Linked DNA regions of Homo sapiens: region 1 is linked to region 2. Evidence: fine-mapped expression QTL. A gene starts in region 2. The other region holds a variant in brackets. All regions are shown on one strand. Distances are from middle to middle. Region 1 overlaps RAD51B (RAD51 paralog B). Region 2 holds the start of ZFYVE26 (zinc finger FYVE-type containing 26).

Region 1 (16,294 bases), 190 kb before region 2:
TCTTCTCTGCGGCCATGTAAGACATGACTTTGCTCCTCCTTCGCCTTCCACCATGATTATGAAGCCTCCCAGCCATGTGGAACTGTGAATCCATTAAACCTCTTTCCTTTATAAATTACCCAGTCTTAGGTATGTCTTTATTAGCAACATGAGAACAGACTAATACACCATCGTATGTTGTAATGACTATAATATACCTCTGCCTCCCCCTATTATAATATTCATATCTCCTGAGTAGTCACCTTTGTATCCCCATCATAGTAGGTGTTAAATAAATGTCATGCTTTTAATAAGTGAATGAAAGAATGATTTAATGAATAGGAGCGCACATTTATGAGCTTATAATGTGCTAAGCACTATCCTAAGCACTTTACATATATTTAATCATTTAATGTTTACAACACCATGAAGTAGATGCCATTTCTACCAATGAGAAAACTCAGCCATTTTACAGAAAAGCAGACTGAATCACAGAGTGTTTTAAGTAACTGGACCAAGATTGCACAGATGGCAGGAGGGCTGGGTTTAAAACCCAGTCAGCCTAACTCTGGAGCTCCTGCCCTTCACCATGCCTCCACACCCCCTCTCAAATAAACAAAGCATCCCGGGTGGCCCTAGTGGGTAGGGTTTGGCACTCTCAAATAAGTGACTGAGCAGTAAACAAGATAGCAATGAATCCACATGCTCCTTTTTTTTTTTTTTTTGCATTCATTCTTATATTGTTTCCAAGTCAAAAAGTAATAATGAATGCTCCTAAATTACGTATTCCAATCAATGTAATCAGTTCATTCACATTCAGAATAGTACAGGTCTCTATCTTAGATTCCTACATTTATTTATTTATTTATTTATTTATTTTTACTGATCCTTAAATTTAAACAAATAAGTGAGTCTCAAATTTGGCAAGTTTTGACCATACAAATTTCTCCATGATCTCCTAATCAAATATTGTTTTTAAAGAATACCCAAAATTTGCCAATTAGAAAGAAAAACACTATTTAAATATTCAAAAAAGATGTTAAACACTCCACCTGAGTTTTGATAATCCAACAAGAATATGCTTCTATCTGGTAACTTGTACTTGCTATACAGTGATGAGTAGAGAGTAGGAGATATGGTGTAACTGTGTCACAAATGTACCAGGGTAAAAGTCACTCTGGCACATCCTGAAGATAGCACTAATGGGTTCTGAGAGACAAAGAAGACTGAAATGCTTCAAAGCAACTTGCTCAGAGACTGATAAATCTCCAAAGCAGAATCAACAAATGTAAAAAAACAGGGCTTGCATGTCCAACAATAACTCATACAAAGTTACCTTCCTCCATCAACTGTTAATGGGAAAAAAAAAAAAAAAGAAAGAAAAGAAAAGGAGAGGGAGAGAGAAAAGGCAATCTTTGTCCCTGATAAAATATCTTCATAATAATGGAGATTTAAAAATAACGCAAATTACTAACCTTACCAAAAATCAGTTCTGATTTCAATGCCAATGAAGGAAAACATAGCCATTAGGTAATATTATCACAACAAGACCAAGATATTGTATTTATTCTCATAAAAGGACATGGAACTAATTTATAAATCAAGTTTGGTCAGTCAGTCCTGCATTATTATCAAATAAAATATTTGATAACATGTACTCATCTGGGCACTGCTTCATGAAAAAATTCTGACTTATTTATCACATCCCAATTCTAAGAATATGGAAGGATGAGCTCCTGGATGCCTGACCTTTGTACTTATTTAAGACATTACTTAATAGAAACTGCACCTCTCAAGTCTATTCTAATATGATGCATGCAGGAAATGCAAATTTGCATCCAAAATATTTAATGTTTAAATAATACTAGACAAGTTTTTAAAATCATAGTAAATTATTTGTTGTCCATCAAGAGCAGAGAAAGTTATATTCTACGTAATACAATATTCTGATTTAGTTTCCTCATCTGTAAAATAAGACTGTTATGGATTAAATGAATTAATATTTGTTTAGTATTTACAGTAGTCCCTAGCATATAGATTAAATGCTACATAAGCAATTATTAAATAAAGTAATATCATTGTGGCAGATCATATTTCCAAAAATGGCTTCAGCCGTATTTCTGGTCCAGCATGCTCTTCCAGAATCTTGCCAACCCCACCCATCACATGGTAGAGTCTATTTCTCTCCTCTTGAACCTAGGGGGATTTCTAATTATTCTGGCCAACAGAGCAAAATAGAAATAATGTTCTGTGACTTCCAAGGCTCTGTCATAAGAAGGATATAGCTTCTGCCTATCTTTCTCTTTTTGAAATGTTTGCTCTGAGGAACCCAGACACTCTACTTAAGGAAGCCCAAACTAGTTCATTTGGAGACATCACATGGAAAGACCCATGTGGAGAGGAACTGGGGCCAACAGCCAGTGACATCTGCCAGACATATAAATGAATGAATGATTATAGTGCCTAGCCTTTGAGGTTCCAGCCTCAAACACTGTGGAACTAAGAGAAGCCATTCCTGCTGTGCCCTGTCCGAATTCCTGACCCACAGAATCTGTGAGCATAATAACTGATTGCTTTGTGCCACTAAGTTGTGGGGTAATCTGTTACACAGCCACAGGAATGGGAACAATAAAACTGCTATACTTTTAAAATTTGCATTGCAACTAAAATCAAAAAGATTTTTAAAAGACTTACAAAATTAAACATAATGCAAATAGAGCAGAGAATAAACAGAAGATACACACATAAAACAAAGTTGAAACAACTGTCAGGCATCTGACATATAACAACAGCAACAGCTAACAAAACAGTTATTGTCCTCCATGTGTAAGAAGCACCACAAAAAGTTATGATTTAATGCTCCCAATAACCCTATAAGGATACTGTTATATTTTTATTTTATATACCACATGCAAATAAGAAATAAAATATCCTAACACTAAATAAGAAATAAAATACCCTAACACTAAGACTATAATTTCATCCTGCTTTGTTGCTGGCACGTTTTGAATGCTGGTAGTAAACTATTACTACTAATATAGACCAGGGTTTGGCAAACTTTATCTTAAAGGGCCAGATAATAAATATTTTAGACTTTGAGGGCTCTCTCTCCTCTCTCGCTCTCTCTAGATATATATATATAAAATTCTTTGTTTTATGTTTGTTACAATCACTTAAAACTATAAACCCATTCTTAACTTGTGAGTGCTACAATAACACGCTGTGCACCAGTCGTGAGCCACAGTTTGCCTGACAGACCATGGTAGAGAAATGTTAATACTATAAGTTTAAATTAATAAACCCATCTTTATTATAATACTCATAATAGCATCTACAGTTATATGAAATTAAGAAAACACACTTTCTTGCTCTAGCTTATTATTATCCACTAAAAGTACAAGCTTCCCTGAACTAGGTCAGTAAATGAAAATCTAGACCGAAGAATCCATTATTTCCATTACAATAAATGTCTCTTCATAATTGACATTTATCTACTTTGAAAAGGTCTAGGATACTGTCTGAAAGAAATTATTTTTCTAGGGTCTAACGGCTTCTCCAGGCATCCACATAGATATCTCTGTGTTTGTTTATTGAGATTCATGACAGCCCAGTGTGATTGATAAAACACTGAACACTTCTAACCTTTAGTGTCGATGCTTTGCAAGAAAATGTTTATTATTCTTGGCAGGAAATGATGGAAACTGGTGAGAAACAGCCAGACTAACTTCATATGTAAGTGAACTGGAATTTTTAGGGAACAGTTCCCTCTAGTAAATTTGTCTACACACAGCTTAATCAAGCAAATTTACAGCTGTTAACAGGTTGTGCCGCTGTATTCCTGAACATATAAATAAACTTCTTAATCAGAACAAAAACAGGTTCAGAGTCCAGTTGTTTAAACTGGAACTGGTACAGCCAGTACCTAACTGTAGTTAAAGCAACTGTCAAAAAGAATCATAATCAAAGTAGAAAAAAGTTGTTTTTCTGTTTCCTCAAAGCTACGAAGATGCTGCTCAGTGAACACTTCTGTGATCATCTAAACTCAAAGCTACATGACCTCATTTGAAGTAAGATGCCCAAACTAATGACAAATCAAACAAATGTGTTTTCTAACCAAGGTTCCAAATTAGGAAAAAGCTAATTACTTAAATTTAAATTGGAAGGGAAAAATTTTGGGGAGCCTGTTAATCAGAAGGCTCTTAGAAACTGGAATGGATATGGGAGTGAGGAAATGAACTCATCTGTATAAAAAATGTTTATTCACTTTGACCAGGAATGTAAAAGTAAATAAATTTACGTAAGTAAAAAATAACAAGTAAAGGTTCATATACACCCCTCTTTACAGACTGAGAGTAGATATGAGTTGATTACTGGTAAATAAGGTGTTGCACACACTATGTTGATAGAAATGGGATGCCCTGCAGAACTAATTAAAACAGTCATCAGAAAACCAATCCAATCATTAAAAATTCATACTAAAAATTAACATCCTCTATTTTGGTAAATCCTTGGAAAATTAGAAGTATTATTTCAAAATATCTGATTTTTTTCACTATTTTGTATGACTCACTACCTTTCTTTCATCCAAAAGATTATCCAAACTACAAAGAAACTTATATCCTTTGTACAATACAAATACAAATATAAGTACAGACAAAACAGCTAAACACACAGAAAACCCACAAAATAGCACTTTGGAACCTACATTACTGTATAATTGAAAAAGCCCTATTTATTATAAATTCGCTTAAAAAATGTCATGCCCTATATAAAACCTAAATTTTACAATAGATACCTAAATTCTGTAATATCTACTAAATTCTACCTTTCTCCAAATTATTCCAATATGACTTCAAACTAAGTGTCCATAGTATAAGCTGATCAGAAGAAACAGCTCAGTTGTATACATTTTCAAAGTAATGGAATAAGACCCAATCTCATTAAAAATAATAACATTTTACAAGAATATCTATAAGCATCTGAATTCTTCTGACACAAGAAATATTTTTATATTAACAAAACAGAATCCATTACTCTAAAATCTTATATATTTGTATTAGAAAAACAGGGAGAAATTGGGTCTGAATAAATAAAATGAATAAATGATACAGGACCCCAAACAACTATCAGTTTTTCTAATGAAGCTCTCTCTGATGAGCCAAGGTTTCAATGATCTTTTTATCTGAATTTCTATAAATCTGTGGACTAAATCACGTATAATCAGTTGATTATATATTGACTTGCATTAAAGTTATTTCTTATTTTTCTCTGTACTTTAAAAATCATTTTAATCTCATAGCAAGCTAACTACATCTATAAGCAATTTTTACACCAAGTACTCACCTCCTTACAACTCTCCTTAGTGCTATGGAAAGGTAGGTTCCAATTAGATATAAAGAGATTTGAATATCATTTAATTCAATGGATTATGGGAAGCCATTGAAAAAGAATGAAATGATAATAGCATATTTGAAGAGCAGTAAGCTAGATGTTTTGTGCAGGTTGAGGAACTGGAGGAAAACAAAACAAAATTGAGAAACTACTCAATTGTTCACAAAACAGGTGGCAGTTAACTGAATTAGTGTAGTGAAAAAAGAAGTGGAAATAAGCATAGAAACAAATGAATAGGTTGAAGGAGCCTAGAAATAAACAGTCACAAGCTGGTAATTTATTACATATGAGAATAAGATAGAATAGTCTAAGATAATTAATTTCAGTTAAACAAACATTTATGAAGACCCTAATTTTTGCAAGGCACTCGAAAATATAAAAATAAATTGATGTTACTACTTAGCAGTCAGTAAAGTATTATGAAGAAAAATAAAGCAGGAAAAAATAGAGAAAACTAAAGGGTGCTATTTTATAGAAGAGGTCGTCTAGCAAGTTCTCTCTAGTGAGGTGATGCTTGAGCAGGGAACTAAATAAAGCATGGGGATAAGCTATATGGATATTCATGTTGGAAGAAGTTCCCAGTAGAAGGAACGAATATTAGGAGCTATTATGTAGCAAACCCTACACTAGACACTAAAAATACATGAGTGAACCAAAAAGGTACATGTATTCCAGGATTTTACATTACTGTAAATAAATGAAGAAAAACATAATGTCTTGGAAGTGAAAACTTCCATGAAGAAAAGGCAAAAAGATAAGGAAATAGAAAGTGATGAATGATAGTGCTGTTATTTCTACTTTACAGATAAGGATATTGAGAAGTTAAATACAAACTGATAAATTAGAGAGCAGGTATTTAAACCCACAAAGTCTCACTTCTAAGCTCATTCTTTTATTTACTATGCCATTCTCTCCCTCTGTACTATAAAATCTCCAGTGAAAACCACAAAATGGCAAAAATCACAGTCCATTCTTTGTTACACCCCTAATCAGTATGATAGCATACAGGGGATGCAAAATAAGATTGAATTGACTCTGATTTCCACCGTAGATATAATATTAAAACTCCATTACAATTAAAGAAGCCACAATCCTGAAACTAGGGAGATGGCTCTTCTTATTTAGGGAAATCCCATTCAACAACAACAATAGTTTTTTAAAAATGTATCATTTAAAGGTAAAAGTGATAGGTTTCTAAGGAGATCAGAGTGAAAGAGAACTACTCAAATGGGCCTGCTGCGTATCTCTACGACAGCAAACTATTTACACGGCCTTGGCAAATGGTGGGATGAGAGACTATAATCAATGAGGGAGGAAAAAACAAAGTTATCACTACACAGATGTAAAGTGAACTAGTGACAAGTTAGCAATACGTATCAGGACTCATTGACACTATTTGCCCAAGTATTTTCTTCCTCATAAATCTTCAGGATTTAAAGTATTTCATTTCAACACTGCTTCCTATCACTTAGCAAACTAGTTCACAACTGTCAACACTTTAAACTCATAAACCAAAGGAAGAAAATCCCAGGGCCAATGGGAAAAGGTCTCACTGCACCATAATAATCCATTTAATCTATCTTATTTATAATTATTTTACTTCTTTCCCTAGTTAGAGAGCAATACATATTTAATCTTAAAAATCTGGGAAATTCAGAACTACATAAAGGAGAAAATAAATATCAACCTTAATTACACCGCCCGAAGGTAATCACTGTCAATATGATGGAATGTTTATTTTCACTCTTATTTCTGTGTGTGTGTGGTGGTGGAGGTTTTTGTGTGGGTGAATGTTGCTTTTTATGAATTGTTATCATACATTTTACACAGCTTTGTATCTTACTACTTTTCACTTAACATTAACATTATATGAAGATCAATTTGTCTATATTTTAAAATATAAATTTTAACAATGGTAAAATATTGTACTATATGTAATTAACCATCCTCTTGCTGATTATAAATTTATGCCATTAAAGATGATACTGGCATGAGTATCACTGTATGTAATCTATATGCAAAATAATGATTATTTTCTCAGAAAAAATTCCAAGAAGTAAAACTACTGATTCAAATTATATAGACATATTCTATATAATTTTATAATGTTGCCAAATATCCTCTACAAAGGTAATCAATTTACATTTCCTATGTTACCTGAGAGTTTCACCCCATACTCACCCACAAAAAAAATCATATTTTTAAAAATATAATACGCAAAAAAGTCATCATTCCAATTTGCATTTATTTCAGTAATGTAATTTGCTTTTTCTTTATTTTTTTACTATTAGCTACTTGTTTTTCTTCCCTGTGAATTCCTTTTTGTATTATTTGGCCATTTTTCTATTTGGAAGTTAGCATTTTTACTCTCATTAACATAAAGGAACACTTCATATGGAGATATTTGCCCTTTATCAACACACATAATATAAGTATCTCTATAAAGAACTCTTACAACTCAACAATAAAAAGACAAATTACCCAATTAAACAAGAGGCAAAGGCTCTGAAAAGACAGTTTGCCAAAGAAGAGATGTAAATATCCAATCAGCA[C/T]ATGAAAATCTGCTCAACATCATTAGACATTAGGAAAATGAAAATCAAAACCATGATATACCACTTCATACTCGTTAGAATAGCAGGTATAATTTTTTTTTTAATTTGTAAGGAAAATAAAAAGCGTTGATAAAAGTGTGAAGAAATTGGAACCTCACACAGTGCTAATGGTGCAGCTACTGAGAAAAACAGTTCGGCAGTTCCTCAAATAGTTAAACATAGGATTACTATAGAACCCAGCAATTCTACTCCCAGATATAGAGTCAAGAGAATTAAAAGCACATGTCCAAACAAAACGTAGATACAAGTATTCATAGCAGCACTATTGATAATAGACAAAAAGTAAAACTGAGTCAAATAACCATCAAATAAAATGTGGTATATCCATACACTGAAATATTATTTGACCATACATAAAAGAAAATAAGCATAAATACATGTTGTAATATAGATGAGCCTTGAAAACATTATACTAAGTAAAAGAAACCAAGCACAAAAGATCACATTTGTATAGCTATATTTATATGAAAGGTCCAGAATAGACGAATACACAGTGACAGAAAACTAATAGATTAGAGGGTGCCAGGAGCTGGGGGAAAGCAGGAATCTGGAGTGACTACTAAGGGTTTTTTCTGGGATGATGAAAATGTTCTGGAGTTATATACTGGTAGTGATCGCACAACTCCATGAATAAAGTAAAAACCACTGAACTGTACACTTTAAAATGGTGAATTTTATTGCATGTCATTTATATCTCAATTTCTAAAAGACTTAAAACATTAAAAATGGAACATAAACATAAAAGTTAATACTCTATCATCAGCCCAGGAGTTTATAAGACCAGAAATTCCACTTTATGTATTTATCCTAATTTCAGCTTTGCTTGGTACAGCAAAAGACTAGCAGTAATTCAAATTCCTATCAATAAAAAATTGGGTAAATATATTATCACATAATATTATTAAATACTATGAAAGTATTTTTTAAATGATGCACTCCTTATATAATGAAATGCAAGGATTTCCAAGAAATATTAAGTGAAGAAAATAAGGTACAAAACAGTATGTAAAGTATGCTACCAGTTATATTAAAAATACACACACATCCTCATATATACTTGTATATGCAATATTTAAAGCGATAGCAACTAATAATTTTCTAGAATAATTGAAAGGATACCAAAAATAGATTAAACAACTTTTTATCAGTAGGTTTAAAAATTAAGATAAATCAACAACTTTCTGGAAAAATGTTATTAAAAAGATCTCAAAAGGAAATAGAAAGTTTGGATAACTATTTAAAAACTGAGTAACTAATAAAAATATACCCATAGAGAAGCTAGTTGTAGTACATAAAATCAACAAAGAATTGGTATTTATAATATATAAAGAACTTCTGCATGTCATTAAGAAAAAGGCAGACAACTCAAATGGACAAAAACTTGAGTAGGCACTTGGTATGGTTTGGATCTGTGTCCCACCCAAATCTTACGTTCAAGTATAATCCCCAATGTTGGAGGTGGGGCCTGGTGGAAGGTGTTTGAATCATGGAGGTGGATCCTTCATAAATGGTTTAGCACCATCACTTTGGTGCTGTTCTCCTCATAGAGTTCTCACGACACCTGGTTGTTTAAAAGTGTTATCACCTCCTTCCTCTCTCTCTTCCTCCTGCTAAAAGTGTAGAGCACATCCCTCCTCTCTCTCTTCCACCTGCCATGTAAGATGCACCTGCTTCCCCTTTGTCTTTTGCCATGATTCAAAGTTTCTTGAGGCCTCCCCAGAAGCCGTTATGCTTCCTGTACAGCCTATGGAACCATAAGCCAGTTAAACTTCTTTTCTTTATAAATTACCCAGTATTAGGTATTTCTTTATAGCATGTCGAGAAGCAATACATCACTTCACCAAAATTATACAAATAACCAATAAGTATATGAAAAAAGTGTTTAATGTGCTTAATCATCAAAGAAAGGCAAGTTAACAGCATACTACATGTTATTCAATATACCCACTAGAGTAGCTAAAATATAGTAGTTAAATACGAAGCCCAACAAGAATGTGCAGCAACCAGTACTCCAACACTGCTGGTAAGAATATAAATTAGTTCAACAACTTAACTGTTTGGCAACATCACTAAGCTAAATACATGCATAACTGATGACCCAATAATTCAACTCCTAGGTTGAAAGAAATGTGCAAATAAGTCCACCAAAATGTCCATAGCAGCCCTATTTACACTAGGCTAAAACTAGAAGGCATGCAAAACTCCATTATCAGTAGAATGGGCCAGGCATGGTGGCTCACGCCTGTAATCCCAGCACTTTGGGAGGTCGAGGCAGGCAGATCATGAAGTCAGGAGTTCGAGATCAGCCTGACTAACATGGTGAAACCCCACCTCAATTAAAAATACAAAAATTAGCTGGGCGTGGTGGCATGCACCTGTAATCCCAGCTGCCCAGGAGCCTGAGGCAGGAGAATTGTTTGAACGTGGGATGCGGAGGTTGCAGTGAGCTGAGATCTGCCATTGCACTCCAGCCTGGGCAACAGAGAGAGACACTGTCTCAAAAAAAAAAAAAAAAAAAAAAAAAAACACACACACACACAGTAGAATGGTAGAATGGATACATAAATATGTAATATGTTCTATTGTATGAATAATCACAAAATAGTATACTGCACAGCAAACAGAATGAACCACAACTACACAATACAACATGATGAATCTCACAAATACACTACAGAGTGAAAAAGGCCATATACCAAAAAAAAAGCATTCTGTATAATTTCATCTGTATACAGTTCAAAAACGAACCAAACCCCCCTAAAATACACAGTTTAGAAACTGGAGTAGGTGGTCACCCTCAGAAAAGGCAGTGGCTGAAAGGGCACACAGTGGGGGCTTCTGGGACATTGGTAATTTTTTGTTTCTTCATCTGGATTCTGGTTACATGAGATTGTTCAGTTTGTGAAAATTCATTGAGCTACAGCTACATTTATCATTTGTGCAATTTTCCCATAAATACATTATATTTCAATTTATAAATTATTTTTAAAAGCCCTCCTACTTAGAAACTCCATCAAGTATGGAGGATGTGGAAATAAGTTTTACCATATCTTCATGATGAGAAAATCCTATGTTATAAAAATTTTTCCAGAGAATAGAAAATGAAGAAAGCTGCTGAGCTTCTTCTATAATCTAGAAAGAAAAATCGGTACTACAAACAAAAACTACAAGGAATTCTTAAACAAAATAGTAACAAAAAAATCCACCAATATATTCTTTTTTTTTTTTTTTTTTTTTTTGAGACGGAGTCTTGCTGTGTTGCCCAGGCTGGAGTGCAGTGGCGCGATCTCAGCTCACTGCAACCTCCACCTCCCGGGTTCACGCCGTTCTCCTGCCTCAGCGTCCCGAGTAGCTGGGACTACAGGCACCCGCCACCACACCTGGCTAATTTCTTTTTGTATTTTTAGTAGAGACAGGGTTTCACCGTGTCAGCCAGGATGGTCTTGATCTCCAGACCTTGTGATCCGCCCACCTCGGCCTCCCAAAGTGCTGGGATTACAGCAATATATTCTTTTTAAATAACTAAGTATAGTTTATTTGGCAATGCAAGGATGATTTAACACTACAAAAGCCATTAACATAATCTACCACATTAATGGGATAAAAAAGCCATATGATTTATCTTAGTAGATATTAAAAATTACAAAATTTTACTGGCAAACTCAATCCAGCAGCACATCAAAAAGTTTATCCACCACAATCAAGTAGGCTTCATCCGTGGGATGCAAAGTTGGTTCAACATATGCAAATCAATAAATGTAATTCATCACATAAATAGAACTAGAAAAAAACCACGATTATCTCAACAGATGCAGAAAAGGCCTTCAATAAAATTCAACATCCTTTCATGTTTAAACTCTCAATAAACTAGGTATTGAAGAAACATACCTCAAAATAATAAAAGCCATGTATGACAAACCCACAGCCAATATCATACTGAATGGGCAAAAGCTGGAAGCATTCCCCTTGAAAACTGCCACAAGACAAGGATGCCCTCTCTCACCTTTCCTATTCAATGTAGTACTGGAAGTTCTGGCCAGGGAAACAGGCAAGAGAAAGAAATAAAGGATATTCGAATAGGAAGAGAGGAAGTCAAACTATCTTTGTTTGCAAATGGCATGATCCTATACCTAGAAAACACCATCCTCTCAACCCAAAAGCTTCTTACGCTGATAAGCAACTTCAGCAAAGTCTCAGGATATAAAAATCAATGTGCAAAAATTGCTAGTATTCCTATACACAAACAGGCAATCCAAGAGCCAAATCATGAATGAACTCCCATTCACAATTGCTACAAAGAAAATAAAATACCCAGGCTAACAAGGGAAGTGAAGGACCTCTTCAAGGAGAACTATAAAGCACTGCTCAAAGAAATCACAGATGACACAAACAAATGGAAACATATCCCATGCTCATGGATAGGAAGAATCAATATCATGTAAATGACCATACTGTCCAAAGCAATTTACAGATTCAATGCTGTTCCCGTTAAACTACCATTGACATCCTTCACAGAATTAGAAAACACTATTTAAAAATTCATATGGAACCAAAAAAGAGCCTGAATACCCAAGACAATCCTAAGCAAAAAGAACAAAGCTAGAGACATCACACTACCTGACTTCAAACTATATTATAAGGCAACAGTAACTAAAACAGCATGGTACTGGTACAAGAACAGACATATAGACCAATGGAACAGAATAGAGAACCCAGGAATAAGACCACACACCTATAACCATCTGATCTTCAAGAAATCTGACAAAAACAAGCAATGGGAAAAGGAGTCCCTATTTAATAGGTGGTGCTGGGAGAACTGGCTAGCCACATGCAGAAAATTGAAACTGGACTCCTTCCTTACACCATATACAAAAATCAACTCGAGATTAATTAAAGACTTAAATGTAAAACCCTGACTATAAAAACCCAAGAAGAAAATCTTGGCAATACCATTCAGCAGATAGGCACAGGCAAAGATTTCATGATGAAGATGCCAAAAGCAATTGCAACAAAAGCAAAACTTGACAAATGAGATCTAATTGAAGAGCTTCTGCACAGCAAAAGAAACTATCATCAAGCTGATTATAGTTTCTAACAGAATGGCAGAAAATTTTTGCAATATATCTGTCTGACAAAGGTCTAACATCCAGCATCTACAAGGAACTTAAACAAATTTACAAGGAAAAAAAAACATTAAAAAGTAGGCAAAGGACATGAACAGACACTTCTCAAAAGAAGATATACATGCAGCTAACAAATATATAACAAAAAGCTCCACATCATTGATCATTGGAGAAATGCAAATCAAAACCACAATGGCTCACATCAGTCAGAATGACTATTATTAAAAAGTCAAAAAACAACAGATGCTGGCAAGGTTGCAGAGAAAAAGGAACACTTTTACACTGTTGGTGGGAGTGTAAATTAGTTCAGCCATTGTAGAACACAGTATGGCGATTCCTCAAAGACCTAGAGGCAGAAATACCATTTGACCCAGCAATCCCATTACTGCTTATATACCCAAAGGAATATAAATCATTCTGTTATAAAGATACATACATACATATGATCACTGCACCACTATACACAATAGCAAAGACATGGAATCAACCTAAATGTCCATCAGTGATAGACTGGATTAAGAAAATGTGGTACGTATACACCATGGAATACTATGCAGCCATAAAAAAATTGAGACCATGTCCTTTGCAGGGACACGGATGGAACTGGAGGCCATTATCCTCGGCAAACTAATGTAGGAACAGAAAACCAAACGCCACATGTTCTCGCTTGTAAGTAGGAGCTGGATGATGAGAACACAGGGACACATGGAGGGGAACAATACATAGTGGGGCCTTGGATGGTGGGGGATGGGAAGAGGGAGAGCATCAGGAAGAATAGCTAACAGATGCTGGGCTTAATACCTAGGTAATGAGATGATCTATGCAGCAAACCACCATGGCATACATTTGCCTATGCAACAAACCTGCACATCCTGCACATGCACCCCTGAGCTTAAAAGTTGAAAATCAAATAAATAAATAAATAAATAAACTCCATTACCTTTTTGAGTCTCTACTGCCTTGTCCATTAAAAGAGGACCCTAATAAACTAGAAATTTCCAAAATAAAAAAGTATAAAATTTTACATTGATTCATCACTTAAGAAAAAAGCTTCCACCAATATAGCAAGAAAAATAAACTTTCTAAAATGAAAAATGATATATTGGAGTCTCCGGAAATCAGGAATAAGAAAAAATCCCACTATGACACTTCTATTCAAGAATAAAGAAGTATGAGGTTTGGAATAGAAGAAAAACTGCTACTGCATATATGATTCCATAGAAAATATACGATAGTTTGCAAGCCATTTTAATAAGCATGCAAAGCAGTTTTGCTGGACTTTAAATATAAAAATCAATTTTCTGATCCAAGAACTGATTGGATTACATAATAAAAACAGATCCCATTTTTTAAAAACTATTAAAAACCCATGAATAAATCTAACCAAATTATGATTTGTAAGATCTTTGAGGACAAAAGTCTATAATATTATAGAATACCTAAATAGAGAAATAAACCATTTTCATAAATGAAAAGATTCAATATTATAAATACATAAATTCTCCCCAATTTATGAATTCGATGTAATTCTAATAAAAACACAAGAGGATCTTTGGTGAGAACTTATCACAGAGAGGCAGAGAAACAGACTTCCAAATAATGGTTCTCAGAGACAGAGGATAAAGACTTTTTAAAAACTGAAATCCACATGGTCAAGGGTGATATCTGATTTTTGCTTTTCTCATTTCCGGTCTCATCATTTTCAGGGATAATAGCCCTTCTCCATGAGGCTTATTTTTTCCAAAACATTCCATAGCTTCAGAAAACAAACCAAACAATTACAGACCTAAAGGTCAGATAAAAGTTACCCACTGGAAAAGTGAAGTAAACTCAATCCAAGAAGCCAGCTGATTTTTAACAATGCAAAACACTAATAATTTAAAAGAGAAAAAAAATCTTAACAGGACATATTTTAACCTCAATGAAATAAAATACTTAAGTTTAGAATTCCCTAGTAAAAGATATGTAGAAAGTATATTAGTTATACACTTTATAAAACCCTTGACAGTATTTGTACTAAATGCGAACATACCAGAGTCTAAGAAAAGTCTTTATAGTACTGTCACATTATCAATCACTTGGAAAACCTAGGAAATCAATTTTTACAGGGCAAGAAAGAAAAATATGGAAGTTACCCAAAGAAGCAGATAACAGAGAAAAGCAATTCAGCAAATTCTTGGAAACTCGGGAATGAGCTCTGGAGTTTAATATTAATGAAATGATCGGCTTAGACTATCAACGTAAAGCAGTCTTGAATAGTGGTTAAGAAAAGATCAGCCCACAGGAATTTTCCACAGGCATTCCCAAATTTATTAGTCATGGCAATAAATAGGAATGGCCTAAGGAAGTATACTTTTACTATGGGGTTAGACTTTCTGTTTGTTCTTTTTTTCTTCATTTTTACATTCCTACTACTAGTTTTTTGTTGTCTTTTTGTTTGTTTGTTTGTTTTTAAGACCTAAATTGCTTTTCCTAAGGTTCTGGACTATGCTGACATTCATAAGTGTATTTACAGCCTTCCCCACGTTTTACACCTTTGAGCCCTTGCTCATTTAGTTCCTTAAAAGTAGAATGTCCTTGGAACCCATCTAACACATATCAAAACCCTACTCCACCTTCAAGGCACAATTTAAATATCATTTCCTCCCTGAAGATTTCTATAGTAATAATAAAAATTAACTGCTCCTCTATCCTATGTGTATTCTAACGGGAAATAAACCTAATACTTAATGAACCTCTATGATATGCCAAGTCAAGTGCTTTATAAAAGAATTTTAATTTAACCTTCTCAGAAGTCCTATAACGTACTATTATCTCCATTCTGCAGTTGGAAAACTAAAGATGTGAGAGGTTGCATAATACAATAGTAAGTCATGGAGTTGGGATTTAACCAAAGCCTATCTGATTTCAAAGTCTATGGCCTTTATATAATTTCATGCTGCCTTTATCACAAACTGACTTGGAATGTGTTGTTTATATACCAGTCCACTCTTGTAGGTCATGAGATCTTTGAAGACAAAGGCACTATCCCATTTGGGTTTTAATCCTCCTATGCTAGCACAGTGCCTAATATGTATCATATAGCACTCTAGTGCTGCCTGAAATCATGTGAAGAAATTAGTACAGCATTTATTTTCCTCATATAATGAGCTTCTATGTAGCCTCATGACCATAAAAAATAAGTACCTG
Region 2 (15,216 bases):
TACCAGGTATATACCCAAAGGAATACAAATCATTCTATTATAAATATACATGCACACATATGTTCATTGCAGCACTATTCACAATAGCAAAGACATGAAATCAACCCAAATGCCCATCAATGATAGACTGAATAAAGAAAATGTGGTACGTATACACAATGGAATACTGTGCAGCCATAAAAAGGAATGAGATTATGTCCTTTGCAGGGGCATGGATGGAGTTGGAAGCCATCATCCTCAGCAAACTAATGCAAGAACAGAAAACCAAAAACTGTGTGTTCTCACTTATAAGTGGGAGCTGAACGATGAGAACACATGGACACATGGACACACGGAAGGGAACAACACACATTGGGGCCTGTTGCGAGGTTGTGGGGGAGAGGGAGAGCTTCAGGAAGAATAGCTAATGGACGCTGAGCTTAATACCTAGGTGATAGGATGATCCATACAGCAAACCACCATGGCACACATTTACCTATGTAACAAACCTGCACATCCTGCACATGTACCCCGGAACTTACAATAAAAGTTGGAAAAAAAAAAAACTAAGCCAGTGTTTAGGGCAGTGCTGAAATATAAGGAATGCTACAAGAATGAATGTAAACCATAGGAGAAAGATGGTTTCTTGAACTGTATTTGGAATTGTATTAAGATGGCAGCTGAAGGTAGTGATGGAAGTAGAAATTAAAGTTGAATTTCGGGACCATGCTCTCTATTTATTAACGGGAAATATGCCATGGATATTGACTAATTAGAATGACAGATGACAAATTAAAGGTTTTTCTGGTGCTTTACAACCTTCAAAATAATAACAAGTTAATTTGAATCTAGTCACAGAATCATTGCATAGTATTTTAACTTCTGTTTTCTCCCATAAAAGAAAGCTGTTCAAGCAATGAAATCAATGATAAAGCTAAGACTAATGCCAGTTTCTAACTCCAGTTCTGATTCTCCTTCTGACTATCCTGTCTTTAAAATATTTTCCTCAGATCACAAGCTAAATCTGAACAAAAGAAAATATCTGTTGTTTGGCCAGGCACAGTGGCTGATGTAATCCCAGCACTTGGGGAGGCCGAGGCGGGAGGATCACTTGAGCTCATAAGTTCAAGAACAGTCTAGGCTATGTGGCAAAACCCCATCTCTACAAAAAACACAAAACGTAGTTGGGCATGGTGGTGTGCACCTGTAGTCCCAGCCACTCGGGAGGCTGCGGTGGGAGGATGGCTTGAGCCCAGGAGGCGGAGGCTGCACTGAGCCGAGATCACACCACCGTACTCCAGCCAGAGAAATAGAGACAGACCTCATCTCAAAAAAAAAAAAAAGAAAGAAAATATCTGTTGTTCAAATATCTGTTCATTGTTTTTAGAAGTTTCCAGTGACACTAACATTCCTTCCTTCTCCCCTTCTTCAGAGAATTGTACTTCATTGTTCAGTGTTCAGTAAATTTCAATATAAGGCAGTAAGGTAAGAAACTTACAGTCCACATAAATAAATACATTTGCAAAGCACCGAACAGAATTTTAGGAAACTCTTACTGTGAGAAAACAAGATATTTCTATCATGCTCCAAATCTACATTTTGAAAAGCTACAGTCATGACACAAAAAGTCTGAAAAAATGTACAATTTGATGAGGGCTTTTGTAAAAGACTTCAAATTTTCTTAAGAGTAAAGGATAAATTTTTAATTACCTTTTATTCAATCAATAAGCAACTACAAGTACAATTATGTGTACTTTATGATCTAGAGCAAGTGATGATGGTAAAGGTCAGTATATCAAAGAAAGGGGCATTCTAAAATTAAGATTATAATTTAACTATGAGGCCATCAAATACTACCTAATCAATCAGAGAAAGATGACCTTTTGAACTACTGCTATTGGCTATAGAAAAAAAAATAAAAACTTTCTGTTGCTCCCTAATTCCCATATTTAGAAATTGTCTCCCATGAGTTTATAAACTACATAAATTTTTCACACATAGGCTAGGCACGGTGGCTCACGCCTGTAATCCCAGGACTTTGGGAGGTCGACGCAAGCAGATCACTTGAGGTCAGAAGTTTGAGACCAGCCTGGCCAATAAGGTGAAATCCCATCTCTACTAATAATATAAAAATAAGTTGGCTTGGTAGCACCGTGCCTGTAATCCCAGCTACTCAGGAGGCTGAGGCAGGAGAATCGCTTGAACCCAGGAGGCAGAGGCTACAGTGAGCCGAGATCGTGCAACTGCCCTCCAGCCTGGGCAACAGAGCGTCTCAAAAAAGAAAAAAAAAATTTTCACATGTATTTTCCTTAGAGAACTAACTTCTATAGTAGAAAACTCAGTATTTTTGAGGTACTCATCTCTATTTCTGCATGTGCCTCATCCCTAAAAAAACATGTTTAATGAGATGAGGAATCATTCATAATCAAATCATAATAAAATATAAATATACCGTTTGCATCTTTGGGGCACAGGCCCTGCTGACCATACATAGAAGTTCATGGACACCTCGATAACTCAGACCAGTCACCTTCATAAGCTCCAGTGGGGAAAGACATAAAAAGTCCTAAAGAAACATAAAGAGAGTATTTTAAACATATATGTGTAACAAAGATACTAGAGTTAAAAGGAAACCTTCAATTGATACTGCTTATGTAGACAAAAGTATAATTTATCGCAGATCAAAGATTTATACATTCATTGTAGTATTTTCCCCATAAATATGCCTTAACTAAAAGTTGTAATGACACAAACTTATCTTCTAATTATCCTGTTTAGTTGGCATATACCAGAGGATACACCAAATAATATCACATAGCACCAGCATCCAATCCAGGTGCGTATGAGCGCTACACTTGTGCCAAAAAGAATTTGGGTATAAATATATGCCCAGAAAGTGTCAGGTTGAAAGAGTTTCTTTCCTTTTTTTTTTTTTTTTTTTTTTTTTTTTTGAGACAAGAGTTTTGCTCTGTCGCCCAGGCTGGAGTGCAGTGGCACGATCTCGGCTCACTGCAACCTCCACCTCCTGGGTTCAAGCGATTCTTCTGCCTGAGACTCCTGAGTAGCTGGGACTACAGGCACTCACTACCATGCCTGGCTAATTTTTTTTATTTTTAGTAGAGACAAGAGTTCACCATATTGGCCAGGCTAGTCTCGAACTCCTGACCTCATGATCTGCCCACCTCGGCCTCCCAAAGTGCTGGGATTACAGGTGTGAGCCACCGTGCCCGGCCGAAAGAGTTTCTTTCTAAGCTAGAAGTTCACTCAGAGATAATATTTCGTAGTTGAAAAAGAATGAAACTGACTATAGGATGAAATAACAAATTTCATACTTTTAAGAATGTTTCCGAGTATAAATATGCAAATAATTAAATGTATAACAAAGGAACCGATGTTATCTTTAACACAGAAAGCAATTCAAAAAAAAAATTGCAGAATGCTCTGTGAAAATGTCTTATTAAAGATAAAATCAGGCCAGGCACGGTGGCTCATGTCTGTAATGCTAGCACTTTGGGAGGCTGAGGGAGGCGGATCACTTGAGATCAGGAATTTGAGACTAGCCTGGCCAACATGGTGAAACCCCGTTTCTACTAAAAATCCAAAAATTAGCTGGGTGTGGTGGCATGTGCCTGTAATCCCAGCTACTCAGGAGATGGAAGCAGGAGAATCACTTGAACCGGGGAGGAGGAGATTGCAGTGAGCCGATATGGCACCACTGTACTCCAGCCTGGGCAACAGAGTGAGACACTGACTCTAAACAAACAAACAAAAAAAGGATAAAATCCTAAGATAAAACCTTAAATCTAGCCAGGCACAGTGGTGTGTGCCTGTAATCCCAGCTAGCTGGGAGTTGAGGCTGGAGGATTGCTTAAGGCCAGGAGTTCAAGATCAGCTGGGGCAGCATGAGAACCTAGTCTCAAAAACAACAAAGAACAAAAACAACCAACCAAAACCTTTAAATCTTATTTACCCTGCTAAGGAGGATTTGCTTCACCACCTTGCTTAAAAATGCAAGATCCGCTCTATATATTTCTCATGCTCCATCAATAAGAAAATGGTCTATTAATTTCTTTTGCTTTTAAGAGAAATGATACATGTTGAATAGTATCTCCTCATTTGAGTCCTATTTCTCATGTAACTATAAAACAGTAAAGCTGTTACTTCACCTTATGCCGTGACCACTTTCCCCTCAAAATGCAAAAATACTAAATTTGGGTAAATGAAATAGCAGTTGGAAATGCACCCAAGGAGGCTTGATATTTACAATTAGCCTATGGAAAAGCACCATCATTTATCTTTTTTTTGTAAGCCTACATTTTCATATTTCAAGTTTAAGAGGTATTAAGGTATAAAGTTAACTTGTGCATAAAACTTATCAATAAAAATGTTAAATAAAATTTACCTGACAGGTAAGGATCTGATGTCTACTCAGACGGTCACACAGCTCTTGTGATAAACCCACTCGTTTTAGTTTCTTGCTACCCATGCCTCCAGATCCAGCAAAGAAAAGAAGAACCATGAAAAAAACAACAGAATATAACATAAGTGATAGTGAATAGGCTATCCAAAACAAAATTAAAAATTCCTCAAGTTTCTCCATATGCAAAATGAAACATATTGTGTTAAAAATATTACTGATAAAGGAATGCTATAGAACCTTTTTAAATGTTTTAAATAGGAGGGACAATTGTTCGTCAAACAGGCACATAGAAAATCTACAAGGCAACCTCAAATATAATTTCACACAATTAATTGATATTTACTACATGAATATAGTACCACTTCACATTTGTAGAGCATCTTAAAATGTTCAATGCATGTATAAATTTTATTTGGAAATGTAATTAACTTTCAAGGCATATTTCCAAACAGAACTACTAGAAAGTCTATTGCACTGTAACAATTTACATTGCACTGTAACGGCAATAGGTATATTTATGGAGCACCTACCACATACCAGGCACTGTTCCAAAACTTATCTAAATTATCACATTTAATCTTCTCAATAGCCCTAGAAGGAAAGTAGATTATTGGCCCCTTTTTTACATATGAGAAAACTAAAGCCTGGAAAAGTTAGCTAGTCCATTGTCACCAGAAAACATAAATAACTGATCCAGAATTTGAATCCAGGCAGTCTAATTCTGAAACCTATCCTCTTAACCATTACACTCTACTGCAAGTCCATAATCATATTTAACTCTTCCTTTTTCTAGGAGTCAGAGCACACCTTCTGAATCAAATGAGATTTTATCACTGCAGTATTAAAATGTTCTTTTTAAATATATATATAGAGAGAGAGAGAGAGAGCGAGACAGGTCTGGCTCTGTCACCCCAGCTGGAGTGCAGTGGCTCGATCTCAGCTCACTGCAACCTCCCCCTCCTGGGCTCAAGCAATCCTCCTACCTCAGCCTCCCAAGTAGCTGGGACCACAAGCGTGCACCACCATGTCTGGCTAATTTTTGTATTTTTTGTAGAGACAGGGTCGACACCATGCCTGCCCAATTTTTGTATTTTTTGTAGAGACAGGGTTTTGCCATGTTGCCCAAGCTGGTCTCGAACTCCTGGGCTCAAGTGATCCTCTCGCCTTGACCTCCTAAAGTGCTGGGATTACAGGCATGAGCGATCAGACCTGGCCCAAAATGTTCTTTATTACACTAGCTGCTTATATTCTCACATGCAGTTAAATTTCACTATTGTACCTTGCTAGGGGTAAATGAGGCTCATGAAAGATTTATCTTCACAGAGCTAAAAAAGAATTACTGTGAGTCTCTTAATGCATACAAAGGAGAAGCTGTATATCTCATTGAGATGGTAAAGAAGTATCCTCTGGAACGAACTGAAACAGGAACTCTTCATGGATCCAAGGAATAAAGCAATATAGTTATCAGAAAAGAAGTAACATTTTGGAATGAAAATATATGTATACTGAGAATGTATATATTTGTTTATTTCCAATACCATGGCCCAAATTTCTATTTAACACCTAAATTCTCTGAATCAGACTGAATCAATCTCTCTCTCTCACACACACACACACGCACACACAATATACATACATACACACCTCTCACAAACAAAAATACATCCTCCTCATTTCTCTCCATGGGAATTTGTTAGCAATGACTTGTTTCCCCCAGTAGAAAACCAAGTGATACCTGCTATAATATTGCCTAGTGTCTTTTCAGATCAGGTAGTTTCAAGTAATGACACCATTTAGACTGATAAATTCAATTTAAAAAAAAAAAGAAGGAGAAAGAAAAGAACCATAGGCCACACAAGGTAGCTCACGCCTACAATCCCAGCACTTTGGGAGGCTAAGGCAGGCAAATTGCTTGAGCCCAGGAGTTTGAGACCAGCCTGGGCAACATAGAGAGAACCTGTCTCCACAAAAAAATACAAAAATTAGCTGGGCATTGTGCCGCACACCTGTAGTAGTCCTAGCTACCCAGGAGGCTGAGATGAGAGGATCACCTGAGCCCAGGAGGTCGAGCCTGCAGTGAGCTGTGGTCATGCCACTGCACTCTAGCCTGGGGAACAGACTGAGACCCTATCAAAAACAAAAAACAAACAAACAAAAAACTATAAATTCTAAACTACAAGGACTTTAACAACAACCAATTCTGCCATTTCTGCCTTAATAGGGCCACTCCCATCACTTGCCTGGACTATTGCATATTGTTTCTGGCCACTCCATTCATTTGTTCCTTAATTTACTCCTTCCACAGGCATTTAAATACACACCCTGCTGAGGTCTGGGGTACAAGAATCATTTAAGCATATTCCCTCCCCTTTGAATACTCATAGTTGAGATGAAAAGAGAGGTACACACAAATAACTACAGCCATGCAGTAAGCATTACAATTGCTATTTAAAAGTGCTATGGAAGCAGACAGGAAGAAGCCCCAAATTCGCCTGCAAAAGTCAGATCAGTGTCACAATCCTGCCTTGAGTAGCTTCCTAAAAAGTCACGATTATCCTTTAACACTTCCCATGGGACTGGTAGACCACAGGATAAATTCCAAACTTCTTAGGGTCGCAGAGAAAAACATCAAAAATTGGTCCCTCACTTCCTTCTCACTCATACATCACATTGCAACGTTCAGTTCCTATCCTTCCTGGCAGTTACTTCACCTCTCAGTGTCTTAATTTCCTTAAAACCCTTGTTTTACAGTCATATGAATTTACTACTTCATATGACTGTAGTGGAGGTTAAAGGACTCGGGGAGTGCGTGGCACATAGTACTTAAGGTCAGCAATCATCATTTAATGACTCTCACATGATCTGCCCTCCAGCCACATGGTATGTGTATTGGTAGGTCACGCATCCTGTCTCCCTGACTTCCCTCCACAAAACCTTCCCCAGAGTCAAGTCTTTTCCTCTCCAATGTTCTCATCAACTTCGCACATATCTATTCGATAATCTTATCAAAATACTATTATGGCTTGCAAGTTTGTTTGCCCCCACCGGAGCACGTAAATTCCTGCGGTGTATGTGTGCGCGAAAGCACGTATGTGTATTGCACATGAGGGGAGACGGTCAACCCTGGAGAATGAACCCTGTCCTCCTTACCACCAAGAAAAGAAAATTCTTCATGTTAGATGTTCAACAACTGTTTAGGAACAATATTAGCTAATATTTATTGAGCCCTTATTACGTGCCACACTGTTCCAAAGGCTTCGGATATTTTACCTCACTTTACAGATAAGGATACTGAGGTAACTAGTTGAGAAACTTGGGCAAAGTTAAACAGCTGACAATTGGTGTGAAGCTCGCATTCGAATCCAGGGACCGGACTCCAGATTCCACGCTCTCCAACACCACCTGAAGTGGGAGAGTCCCTCAACTTCCCCTAATGACAGGCTGCCCGAAGCGGGAAGGGGCTGGGGAGGAAGATGGGCAGCAACAGGCGGAAACATCACCCAGAATCCCCTAAAAAGAGCTTTTTCCAACAATGAGCAGCTTCCAAGCATTCCCCACCAAAAGAAGGCCCGAAGCTCCCCCAATTCACAGCGGGGTTCTTAGTGACGATCCCGAGTCTTAAGGGGGCGTGACCAGCACCCAAGAGAAAATCTCCGCTCCCCCAATATCGAAACCCACGAGCCTAGGGAAGGAGCAGGAAATAATGAGCGAACCCCACTTCCCCACAACGGCACCCCACATGAAACTTTCCAGTACCGGGTCTGCAGCATCCAACTTTCAAGTTTCCCCACCCTTTACACAGTTTCCCCGCGGAAAACGCCGCAAAGCAACAACCGAAGCACTGATTGAGTCGTCATTCTGGCTACTGTATCCAATCAGAGGCCGGCAGAGGCCCAGGTTGGCTCCGCGGCTTGCTGGGAATTGTAGTTAATACTATGATCAGCCTAACAGATCGAATCTGAAGCAGTTTCTCAATATAGTGATTATCAAAATCTGTTGCAGGACCATCACCAAAGAGAATGTGAAACAAGGGAACACCCTGTTTGGAAATTTTTCTTTTTTCTTTCTTTTTTTTTTTTTTTGAGACGGGGTCTCGCTCTGTCGCCCAGGCTGGAGTGCAGTGGCGCGATCTCGGCTCACTGCAAGCTCCGCCTCCTGGGTTCACGCCATTCTCCTGCCTCAACCTCCCTAGTAGCTGGGACTACAGGCTCCCACCACCACGCCCGGCTAATTTTTTTGTATTTTTAGTAGAGACGGGGTTTCACCGTGTTAGCCAGGATGGTCTCGATTTCCTGACCTCGTGATCCGCCCGCTTCGGCCTCCCAAAGCGCTGGGATTACAGGCGTGATCCACCGCTCTCGGCCCTGGAAATCTTTTTTTTCGTGTATCATCACTTTTCACAATGGCTTAAAGGGGCCAGACGCAGTGGCTCACGCCCGTAATTTCAGCACTTTGGGAGACCGAGGCGGGAGGATCACTTGAGCCTGGGAGTTCGAGACTAGCCTTGGCAACATAGTGAGACACCCTCCCCCACCCCTCCGCCTCTACAAAAAAATACAAAAAATAGGCTGGGCGCGGTGGCTCATGCCTGTAATCCCAGCACTTTTGAAACTGCCCGATGGGTTCACCTTACCAGCTGCCTAGACAGAACCGATTTATCAGGACAGGGGAATTGCAATGCAGAAAGAGTAATTCACGCAGAGCCAGCTGTGCGGAAGACTGAAGTTTTATTGTTACTTAAATCAGTTGTCCCGAGCATTTGCGGATCGGAGTTTTTACCAATAATTTGGCTGGTAGGGGCTTAGGAAGTGGGGAGTGCTGATTGGTCAGGTTGGAGATGGAATCATAAGGGGTCGAAGTGAGGTTTTCTTAATGTCTTCTGTTCCTGGGTGTGATGGCAAAACTGGTTGCGCCAAATTACTGGTCTGAGTGGTGTCAGCTGATCCATGGAGTGCAGGGTCTACAAAATATCTCAAGCACTGATCTTAGGGCTTGCAATAGTGATGTCACCCCCGGGAGCAATTTGGGGAGGTTCAGACTCTTGGAGCCAGAGGCTGCATGACCTCTAAACTGTAATTTCTAAACTTGTAGCTAATTTGTTAGTCCTGCAAAGGCAGACTGGTCCCCAGGCAAGAAGTGGGTCTTTTCGGAAAGGGCTGTTATCAATTTTGTTTCAGAGTCAAACCATGAACTGAATTCCTCCCCAAAGTTAGTTCAGCCTACGCCCAGGAATGAACAAGGACAGCTTAACGGTTAGAAGCAAGATAGAGTCGGTTAGGTCTGATTTCTTTCACTGTCATAATTTCCTCAGTTATAATTTTGCAAAGGCGGTTTCACTTCGGAATGCTGAGGCAGGCAGATCACTTGAGCTCAGGATTTCGAAACCAGCCTGGCCAACATGGCGAAACCCCGCCTCTACTAAACATACAAAAATTAGCCAGACATGGTGGCAGGCACCTGTGATCCCAGCTACTTGGGAGGCTGAGGTGAGAGGAGCCAGACATTGCCTCAAAAAAAAAAAAAACCTTAATGGGCCAGAAAGCCATGTTACTTTTCTCAGGAATCGAGGACAATCCACCAATCACAGAAGAGTTTTTGGAAGAAAACGTTTTGTTTGTTTTAACTTGCTCTTTTCACCACCCTTTGGTGATTAAATAGTTTGGGAAATGCTGAATGAAATTACTAAACCTGAAACACACATAGTGAGGAAAGCTGAGAGTCTGTGATTAAAGCACACCAGGGAAACCAAACAAAAGGCTTGGTGTAAGGCAGCTGTGGTGAGCAAACCTAGTAAGCCGTTACTTCAAGAGTTGGTTTCAGGCTGGGAACGGTGGCTCACGCCCGTAATCCCAGAACTTTGGGAGGCCGAGGTGGGCGGATTGCCTGAGGTCAGGAGTTCGAGACCAGCCTGGCCAACATGGTGAACCCCTGTCTCTATTAAAAATACAAAAATTAGCCGGGTGTGGTGGCGCGCGCCTGTAAATCCCAGCTACTCAGTGAGGCTGAGGCAGAAGAATCGCTTATCCCAGCTACACAGTGAGGCTGAGGCAGGAGAATCGCTTAAACCCGGGAGACGGAGGTTGCAGCGAGCCGAGATCGCGCCATTGCACTCCAGCCTGGGAGACAGAGCGAGACTCTGTCTCAAAACAAAAGACTTGGTTTCAGATTATTGTGTTTGCGAAAAAGCCTTTGCTCATTCTTTGCTCTCTGATCTCTTATGCATACTTCTGTCTTATAATTTAGCCCACCGTCTCCTAATTTTTGGCCTGCATCTCCCTTGAGAAGAAGGACCTCCATTTACTCAACTTAGAGAATAGGGCCTAAGCCCGGTGTAGTGGCGCGCGCCTCTAGTCCCAGCTACTACAGGAAGGCTGAGGCTTAAGGATTACTTGATCCAGGAAGTTCGAGGCTGCCATGAGCCGAGATCACACCACCGCACTCCAGCGACAGAGAGACTCTGTCTCTAAAAAAATAAAATAAAGCCTAGCACACCGTTCAATTAACAGTTGTAGGGTAAATGTGCAAATAAATGAATGGAGTGAAGCAGAAGAATATGGAAATTCAGACCGCAGAGTTCCGGAACAAAAGAGCCCAGTAGATAGAATAATAATGGAGGAGAACCCAGTTCTCCTAGCTCCGGGTATCCCCCGCGCCTGGCAAAACACCATCACTGGTTGGCGTTCAATAAATGTTGACTTCACATGTTAAGGAGATAAGAGAGTGGAAGAAAAAAAAAAATCCAGGGTCACAGTTCTTCCTGCCACCTGCTCGGCCGAATGCAGAACTGAAAGTATTGAGCGCCGGAGCTGTCACAATTGAGGGAGATGGTCCGCAGCCAGGTAGCTGATTTCCTCTTTCCGAGCTTTCTAGCTTTCCCTACTCCCGGAGAGGTGGCGTCACGTGACTCAAACAAATATGGCACTTAATTTTCATCTTCCCTGCCTTGAGCCAATAGGAGTGGGGCTTTCAGTCTTTGTCACCACCCCCACCACCGCTGTTCGGAGTGGGTTCTGTCACCTGACTCGGCTCAAACATGGCTGCGCTGAGAGCTCTATTGCTTTGGGCGCCGGGAGCAGGTGAGTGTAAGACACCCCTGAGAGGGAGGGGCCCCTCTCCACGACCCCCGCAGAGAGCGTCCCTGCGGCCCACCCCCACACTGCTTTCCACTTATGACACAGATTCGTCTCCTGGTCGTCAATCCTCTGCCTTAACAGAGGGCTCAAACTAGGGAGGTTCCTGCTGAATTTCTCATTCTTGAGGAGGCGACCACCTGGGGATTTGGAGTCAAGACTGGGCATAACGTTCAGTAGGGAATACGGACGTAGAGTTATGGGTCTGCGCCCGGAGCAAATATGACTATTAATATTATTAAATATAGGAATCCGCGTGAAGAGATGGGATCCACCCCTTGAAGAAAGTGTTTTCAAAAAGTAACGTGGGAAATTAAACTGAAAACGATACTTAGGCAAGCAAGTCCCGCCTTTCCCAGGCGGACCAGTAGTTGCTGCTTTGTCTTAATACAGTGCCTTCTGTTTCTTCTCACTGGCGTTGTGTTGTTTCTAGGAGGTACTCCGCGAATGAGAACATTGAGAATGTGTTCGGCATAACTCATTTCTTTGTATCTCCCTGCACTCTGTGCTGGGAAAATGAATCATCCATTTGGAAAAGAGGAAGCTGCTTCGCAGAAGCAGCTTTTTGGATTTTTCTGCGAATGCCTGCGGAGGGGAGAATGGGAGCTGGCACAGGCATGTGTACCTCAGCTACAGGAGGGACAAGGGGATATCCCAAAGAGGGTAGAAGACATACTTCAGGCATTGGTGGTGTGTCCAAATCTGCTGAGGTAAGGGATCTCTTTTCCTACCAGACGGTCCCAGGGTGAGAGACATGTGGTTCAATATTTGGGCATTGGTCAATGTGCCCCCACTCAACTACCCTCTGAAGAATAAGCAGAGGCACAGTGTATTTCACGTGCTCTGAAATTTTACCTCTATAGTATACATCCATTACTTAGTCAATATTGGCTTTTGATTATCATCTGCAACTGAATGTAAGCCTGGCTGCCAAAGTGTGCCTGAAACTGCCATTTCTTGTTTATCCTCGTTAATATAGATGGTGGAACTGCATTGAAAACTATTTTCTTTGCCTCCAAAAAAGCAAACCCTGCTCTCTTCTTGCTTATGAGATTGAAAATATTGTTGTCGCTTTACTTAAAACTTTTTATTTCGAAATAATTGCAGTCTCACAAGAAGCTGCAAAAATAATGGAGTCCAGCGTATCCTTTTCCCAGTCTGCCCCAATTGCGACGTCTCATACAGCTGTAGTACAATATCAAAACCATGAAATTGACATTGGCACATTACTTTAAATGACACTACAGAGTTTATTTGGTTTTCAGCATTTTCTTAATCTGCCTTCATTTTTTCATTTGTAGTTTTATGCAGTTTTATCCATATATAGATTCATGTAATCCCACTGTAATAAGGATCAGAACTGTTCCATTACCACAAAAGAATTCCCTCACTCCTTGGTGCTACCTCTTTGTATTTATACAACAACCCCTCCTTGTTCCCTGGCAACCACAGTTCTCCATCCTTGATTTTCAATGAAGTTCCTCCTGGTGATGCTAGTAACCACTGGTGATGTAGGAGTCAAATGTACCGTTTTAAGTCTTTCCTTGGGTTTTCCTTCCTTTGACTGTTATGCTATACTGTTTACATATTGTATTAGCACATATACGATGGAGAAACTTAAGTGATCCCTTCCTTTTCTTTTTCTCCTTTAATTTGAGATCTAGCCAGTTACCGTCTAAATTCCTAACTTCAAAGAAAGGCTTATGAATTCCTAAAGTCCTGTTTTTAGCATATAGTTAAAAATAAATTTGTATGAAGTTCCTTTTTTAAGACTGTCTGATTCACTTTCTGTATTAAAAATATGCTTCAGATAGTATTAGCTATTATGGTTTTCTCGAATATTATTTTATTTTAAACTAAGATAAGGAGGTGGAGGTGAGATTAAGGCTTTTTATGAAAGCTGCTAGCTCTGTTCTGGTTCTGATTTGTTTGTTTGTTTGTTTGTTTGTTTGTTTGTTTTGGAGACAGAGTCTTGCTCTGTCACCCAGGCTGGAGTGCAGTGGCATGATCTAGGCTCACTGCAACCTCCGCCTCCCAGGTTCAAGCGATTCTCCTGCCTCAGCCTCCCGAGTAGCTGGGACTACAGGCGCCTGCCACCGCACTTGGCTAATTTTTGTATTTTTAGTAGAGATGGGGTTTCATTATGTTGGCCAGGTTGGTCTCGAACTCGTGACCACAGGTGATCCACCCACCTCAGCCTCCCAAAGTGCTGAGATTACCGGTGTGAGCCACCTTGCCTGGCCTGGTTCCAATGTTTTACTGAACTGTCATATACATTTAAAAATATCTCATTAGGGCAGTGTCTTGCCTGTTCAGGTTTAAAACAGAATAAGCAATGAAATCTGTCTTGGATGACAAAAGATGAAAGATCAGTAGAAACTCTTTTTTACAAGTCTTTCTTTTTACCTTTTTCAGATGTGGGCAGGACATCAACCCTCAAAGAGTAGCCTGGGTCTGGCTTCTTGTACTGGAGAAATGGTTGGCCCGGGAAAAGGTAAGTAGGTTTATATTAAATTTTCCTCCGAGGCCAGGACTGAGAAGAACTTGAAAGTAGTTGTGGGATTTCCCTTCTGTCTGTTACTTCCTTTATCATTAAATTCATCATACTCATTCTCAAAGAATGGCTTAAATTTTTATTGCTGTCTCCTTACCTAAATTCATTCATTAATGCACTAATATACATTGGCATATATTACTGTTTGTTAAATACCACCATGAGTCTTGTGCCTAAAGAGAACTTTTGGAAACTCAGTGAAGGTAACAAAATAGCAAATAAAATATGAATCTGTAACATTTGGATCTATTCAACATTTAAGTAATAGAGAATGGGCTGAGCTGAAACTTGGTTTTTCTTCCAAAAATCATATTTTAACTAGCCTAATTCCATGACATCTCATAGATTCAAATTCCATTAATTCATAGTTTAATAATTCACATGAATTGAACAGAAAATTACCAGATATAAAAACAAGTAAGCAAATTAATATTGAAAAAAAAAACCTGGTAAGGAATTACCTTTTTTAAAGATAAACTTCCATTAAAAGTCCTTTTAGAAGTATGTTAATTATCAGAAATTTATATCTTATAAAAGAATTACTCTGAGACATTTTCATATTGAACTTCAGACTTTGAGATTTAAGTGAAGAACCTCTAACTTAGAAATGACTGGCCCAAGGACACACCGTAAAGTTATTTGACAGAGCTGGTGCTGAAACCAAGATCTTCTGACCTCAATCCTCTGCTTTTTCCACCTTAACACTACTTTTTTAGCCCAGATGGACTTTAAGAAACCACAAATTCTACTTTTAAAATGTCTGTAATTTCGCCAGTTTTTTAAATTTTTGCTCCTCTCGGTCACCAGAATTAATTTTGTCTTTGGTTCCACTTTTGCATGATATTTATCGTTCCTCACAGAGCTGTCAAAAAGTAACAGAAATTGCTAATCTGAATGTATCTCTTATCCAGGATTTAGCCAGTTGTTTAGGAAAGAAAAATGACAGAAAGACTAGTAGGAGCGAGAAGAAAGAAAAACAAGATTGAAACATAATGAAACCCAGCATCATTAAGAGTTGGCTATGGTTTCAGATTTAAAAGAGAAAACTTGAACTAAAATAGTAACCTATAGTTACTATAGTATCTTCAAAGAGAAAAAGAACTATTGTTACTGATTAAGGGATCTCTCTAGTA

Evidence for each region. PIP is the estimated chance that this variant, and not a neighbour inherited with it, causes the effect.
Region 1: its variant is fine-mapped to the expression of ZFYVE26 in whole blood (TOPMed, PIP above 0.99).

Annotation. Positions count from the first base shown.
Region 1 is chr14:67,999,260-68,015,553 of GRCh38, reverse strand. The region is part of intron 7 of RAD51B (RAD51 paralog B); the gene reads right to left. Among named protein-coding and RNA genes, the nearest start is that of RAD51B, 190 kb to the right of the region's middle. The variant C/T (reference allele first, on the strand shown) is at 7,923.
Region 2 is chr14:67,812,793-67,828,008 of GRCh38, reverse strand. It overlaps ZFYVE26 (zinc finger FYVE-type containing 26), which reads left to right and starts at 11,419. Exons shown (of 42, transcript NM_015346.4): 1 at 11,419-11,475; 2 at 11,963-12,239; 3 at 13,945-14,023. The coding sequence starts at 12,046. RAD51B (RAD51 paralog B) reads right to left here and starts at 8,230. Exons shown (of 11, transcript NM_133510.4): 1 at 8,156-8,230; 2 at 4,382-4,467; 3 at 2,432-2,545. The coding sequence starts at 4,465. RefSeq lists enhancers at 7,082-7,843, 8,103-8,397, 10,888-10,987, 11,038-11,207.